2 separate regions of the Homo sapiens genome follow, and region 2 is linked to region 1. Evidence: fine-mapped expression QTL. A gene starts in region 1. The other region holds a variant in brackets. All regions are shown on one strand. Distances are between the middles of the regions.

Evidence for each region. PIP is the estimated chance that this variant, and not a neighbour inherited with it, causes the effect. A credible set is the group of variants that fine-mapping cannot tell apart.
Region 2: its variant is the best candidate, but not a certain one, in a credible set for the expression of FMO4 in putamen (GTEx, PIP 0.61).

What each region holds. Positions count from the first base shown.
Region 1 is chr1:171,312,415-171,315,326 of GRCh38, reverse strand. It overlaps FMO4 (flavin containing dimethylaniline monoxygenase 4), which reads right to left and starts at 1,144. Exons shown (of 10, transcript NM_002022.3): 1 at 914-1,144.
Region 2 is chr1:171,358,612-171,361,523 of GRCh38, reverse strand. No RefSeq gene overlaps it. Among named protein-coding and RNA genes, the nearest start is that of FMO4, 46 kb to the right of the region's middle. The variant T/C (reference allele first, on the strand shown) is at 1,386.

The DNA.
Region 1 (2,912 bases):
CTCAAAGGTGCTTATATTTATTTATTTATTTATTTGAGTTGGAGTCTCACTCTGTCTTCCAGGCTGGAATGCAGTGGCACAATTTCGGCTCACTGCAACCTCCACCTCCTGGGTTCAAGTGATTCTCCTGCCTCAGCCTCCTGAGTAGCTGAGACTACAGGCAGGCGGCACCACGCCTGGATAATTTTTGTATTTTTAGTAGAGACGGGGTTTCACCATGTTGGTCAGGCTGGTCTCAAACTCCTGATCTCAAGTGGTCTGCCCTCCTCGGCTTTCCAAAGTGCTGGGATTACAGGCGTGAGCCACCGTGCCAGCCATAGGTTGCTTATATTTAGTCCCTTGGCAGAAAGGAGACCTGACCTATTGAACTAGACCTTTGTACAACGGGAAAACCCCACCCTATACCTGACTGACCAGCAAATGTAGGAATCCTTTATGAGACATGGAGAGACTTGGGTGATTTGCAAATCATGTAATCAATTATGATTTCTTTGAATTTGAAATTTGATCATTTTATGTTTCTTATCATCATCCTACCATGCTCTTGCTTTGTTACAGTATTTTTTTCCCACGCCATCTATGGGGTATTTGTTTCCCAATGGCTGGCATTTCCATCTCATTCATAAGATGAAATCAGAGGTCACTGGAGTCACTGAAAGTCTCATGATTCTGTTTATCTCACTGACACTTTCCTTTTGGATGGTTCTGTCCACAACATAACTTTGTTTCCTTACAACTTCCCTTTGCTTCCTGACTCTCTCCTTAATTCTCTTGCTTTAGCCCTAGTCAAGAGACCCCAAAAGAAGATAATCACATTCATTCTTAAGGAACACACTCCAAGAAAAACATTCATCTTTTGTGAAAGCAGTTTCTGGATCATTTCCCCATTAAAAAAAAAATCCAGGACACTTACCTTGGTTAGCATAGAGCAGATTCTTTGACTTAAATTATTTCTCAAAGTCAAGGAAAGTGTTTGTCTTTTTTTTTTAAAAAAGCTCAAAACCCAAATTCTTTTTTCTGAAAGAAAAATAAATGGAAAGATGACTTTTGTAAAAGTGCCCTCAGTTTAAAACAAAAGCCATTCGTCTTTTCTGTTATGCTAGTGACAGCAGAAAGTATACAGACTAAGGAAAAAAAGTTGTGTAAGAGGCAAGCGTGATACTTCCGTGATCTTAAGGGAGGGCGGAATGGTGAGTTAGAATACAGCTGTTGGATTGGCAGAACATAAACGCTTCCTGCCCCTTTACCCCACCCTCCTCAACGTCATAGTTCTGGCAAAGCCCTAAAGCTATGGGAAGCACATGATAGCGTCGCTTTTGCCATTATAGTCTGTAGAGGGCGCCAAATCACCCCAAATTACAGCTTTCTCAGCGAAACAGGAGTTCTACTTTTGGAAACAAACTTCTACACCCTGACTCTTGCTTGGATTACCATAGGAGCTGTCCAAAGGAGAAAGTTATTTAGATGACCATTACCTCATCAAGTTCTTTCATGCTTGGAGTTCTCCAACCCCAGAAATGTGATTTTAAAGTTCAGGACTTACAAGGAATTTAAGCTGTTTTGTCCTTCAGATTGGATCAGCAGAGGGAGCTGGTGAAATGTGTTTGAGAAAGCATAAAGCTATTTTTAGATATTAACCTAGGGCACAAGAAAGGTAATAATTATAGAAGCTGTGGCAGAAATAGAAAACTTAACTGTTTTTCCTTCCACTGTGTGCTTGTAAGATAATATAACAGACCATCTTTAGGACTTGTGTTTAGGGACATTTTCCAACATGGTTCACTGAACAATTTCTAAACCACATTTGCTTGTGACTACACATGCAAATGCCTACAGGAGTGAGGAGGGTAACATACACGAGGAAAGTGGGCCAGATATGATCTGACTGGAAAGTACTTTCTCTGTCTATTCAGTTCAGCTAAATGTTGCTATTTGAGAAAATGAGCCCAATATGGCAAGGCCTTAGGTTCTTTTCAGTAAAAGCTGCAAATACAGATTTTAATATAAAATCTTCTGTTGGCAGCAAATATTTTCTTTTGAAAAATATCATGGAATATTATGCAGCCATAAAAAGAAATAAGATCATGTCCTTTGCAGGGACATGGATGAAGCTGGAAGCCATCATCCTCAGCAAACTAACACAGGAACAGAAAACCAAACACTGCATGTTCTCACTCATAAGTGGGAGTTGAACAATGAGAACACATGGACACAGAGAGGGGAATGTTGTAGGGCCTGTTGTAGGGTAGGGGGTGAGGAGAGGGAACTTAGAGGAGAACAGGTCAATAGGTGCAGCAAATCACCATGGCACACGTGTACCTATGCAACAAACCTGCACGTTCTGCACATGCATCCCACTTTTTTTTAGAAGAAATAAAGAAAAAAATTTAAAAAAAGAAAAAAAAATATTGTGTCCAGAGTTAGTTCCTTCCGGTGGGTTCCTGGTCTCCCTGACTTCAAGAATGGAGCTGCGGACCTTTGTGGTGAGTGTTACAGTTCTTAAAAGATGGCACAGACCCAAAGAGTGAGCAGCAGCAAGATTTATTGTGAAGAGCGAAAGAACAAAGCTTCCACAGAGTGGAAGGGGACCCGAGCCAGTTGCTGCCGCTGGCTGGGGTGGCCAGCTTTCTCTTATTTGTCCCCTCCCATGTCCTGTTTCTGTCTTATCAGAATGCCCTTTTCTCAATTCTCCCCACGATTGGTTACTTTTAGAATCCTGCTGATTGATCCATTTTACAGAGCGCTGATTGGTCCATTTTACAGAGCACTGATTGGTCCATTTTACAGAGAACTGATTGGTGCATTTTACAAACTTCTTGCTAGCTACAGAGCACTGATTGGTGCATTTTACAATCCTCTTGTAAGACAGAAAAGTTCTCCAAGTCTCTACTCGACCCAGGAAGTCCAGCTGG
Region 2 (2,912 bases), 46 kb before region 1:
TTGTAAGCAGACCTGGTAGTGACAAAATCTCTCAGCATTTGCTTGTCTGTAAAGGATTTTATTTCTCCTTCACTTATGAAGTTTAGTTGGGCTGGATATGAAATTCTAGGTTGAAAATTCTTTTTCTTTAAGAATGTTGAATATTGGCCCCCACTCTCTCTGGCTTGTGGGGTTTCTGCAGATAGATCCGCTCTTAGTCTGATGGGCTTCCCTTTGTGGGTAACCCAACCTTTTTCTCTGGCTGCCCTTGATATTTTTTCCTTCATTTCAACCTTGGTGAATCCGATGATTGTGTGTTTTGGGGTTGCTCTTCTTGAAGAGTATCTTTGTGGCGTTCTCTGTATTTTCTGAATTTGAATGTTGACCTGTCTTGCTAGGTTGGGGAATTTCTCCTGGATAATATCCTGAAGAATGTTTTCTAACTTGATTCCATTCTCCCTGTTACTTTCAGGTATACCAATCAAATGTAGATTTGTTCTTTTCACATAGTCCCATGTTTCTTGGAGGCTTTGTTCCTTCCTTTTCATTCTCTTTTCTCTAATCTTGTCTTCATGCTTTATTTCATTAAGTTGGTCTTCAGTCTCTGATATTCTTTCTTCCACTTGATTGATTTAGCTATTGATACTTGTGTATGCTTCACGAAGTTCTCGTGCTGTTTTTTTCAGCTCCTTCAGATCATCTATGTTCTTCTCTCAACTGGTTATTCTAGTTAGCAATACCTCTAACATTTTTTTCGAGGTTCTTAGCTTCCTTGCATTGGGTTAGAACATGCTCCTTTAGCTTGGAGGAGTTTGTTGTGATCCACCTTCTGAAGCCTACTTCTGTCAATTCGTCAAACTCTTTCTCTGTACAGTTTTGTTTCCTTGCTGGTGAGGAGTTTTAATCCTTTGGAGGAGAAGAGGCATTCTGGTTTTTTGGAATTTTCAGCCTTTTTGTGCTGGTTTTTCCTCACTTTGTGGATTTATCTACCCTTGGTCTTTGATGTTGGTGACCTTCAGATGGGGTTTCTGTGTGGACATCCTTTTTGTTGATGTTGATGCTATTCCTTTCTGTTTGTTAGTTTTCCTTCTAACAGTCAGGCCCCTCTGCTGCAGGTCTGTTGGAATTTGCTGGAGGTCCACTGAAGACGCTGTTTGCCTGGATATCACCAGCAGAGGGTGCAGAACAGTAAAGATTGCTGCCTGTTCTTTCCTCTGGAAGCTTCGTCCCAGAGGGCACCCGCCAGATGCCAGCTGGAGCTCTCATGTATGAGGTGTCCGTTGACCACTGCTGGGAGGTGTCTCCCAGTCAGGAGGCATGGGGGTCAGGGACCCACTTGAGGACTTTGTCTGTCCCTTAGCAGAGCTTGAGCACTGTTCTGGGAGATCCACTGCCCTCTTCAGAGC[T/C]GGCGGGCAAGAATGTTTAAGTCTGCTGAAGCTGTGCCCACAGCTGCCCCTTCCCCCATGCACTCTGTCCCAGGGAGATGGGAGTTTTATCTACAAGCCCCTGACTGGGGCTGCTGCTTTTCTTTCAGAGAGGCCCTGCCCAGAGAGGAGGAATCTCAAGAGGCAGGGTGGCTACAGCGGCTTTCCAAGCTGCGGTGGGCTCCTGCAAGTTCAAACTTCCTGGTGGCTTTATTTACACTCTGAGGGAAGAACTGCCTACTCAAGCCTCAGTAATGGCAGACACCCCTCCCCTCACCAAGCTCAAGAGTCCCAGGTCTACTTCAGACTGCTGTGCTGGCAGCGAGAATTTCAAGCCAGTGGATCTTAGCTTGCTGGGCTCCATGGGGGTGGGATCCGCTGAGCTAGACCACTGGGCTCCCTGGCTTCAGCCTCCTTTCCAGGGGAGTGAATGGCTCTGTCTTGCCGGCATTCCAGGCTCCACTGGGGTATGAAAAAAAAAAAAAAAAAAACCTCCTGCAGCTAGCTTGGTGTCTGCCCAAATGGCCGCCCAGTTTTGTGCTTGAAACCCAGGGCCCTGGTGGCGTAGGCACCTGAGGGAATCTCCTGGTCTGCGGATTGTGAACACTGTGGGAAAAGTGTAGTGTCTCGGCCAAAGTGCACCATTCCTCACGGCACAGTCCCTCATGGCTTCCCTTGGCTAAGGGAGGGAGTTCCCTGACCCCTTGTGCTTCCCGGGTGAGGTGATGCCCCACCATGCTTTGGCTCACCCTCCGTGGGCTGCACCCACTGTATAACCACTCCCAATGAGATGAGCCGGGTACCTCAGTTGGAAATGCAGAAATCACCCACCTTATTCGTTGATCTCACTGGGAACTGCAGACCGGAGCTGTTCCTACTCTGTCATCTTGCCACCCACCCACCAAGATTCCCTTTAATTATATTTTTAAAATGTAATGGGATTACGAATTGTTCTTGGGAACTGTGTTTCATTCTCAACCAGGGAGGTGCAAGACTCATAGCTGCTGCTCTGAGAGAAACTGTCGGCTTCAGCTTGAACCATGACCCCTTATAAAGGCCCAAGTACAGGCTCAGACTGGATTTTCCAATTACTCCTTGCCATAAACTGTACACACAGCAGTTCAGCCTGCTGCACTTGATTGGTCCTTCCCTGTCTGCAAGACCTAATTAGAAATCATTGACTGTCAAGGGTCAAATTAGGTCTAGGCTGAGTTTACCTAAGTGAATCTCAATTTCTCCATTATTAGGATTAAAGGATTCCTGAAATTAAATTCTAAGCTGCATTGCAAGCTTTGGTTGGTAGCATATGGCCTGCTGGTCAAACTTCGCTCATACTAATGCTAAATGGTTGAAATTGCAAAAATGCCAGAAAGAATTCTGCAGTGTCAGATGAGACATTTGAAAAGTCTCAAGAATATGAAGGCTTATCTTTGCCTGCTTTCTTAGGTGACTTGCATGCATACCTAACTGACCTCTCATACAAATTAGTTTTTTGAGATGGAGTCTCAC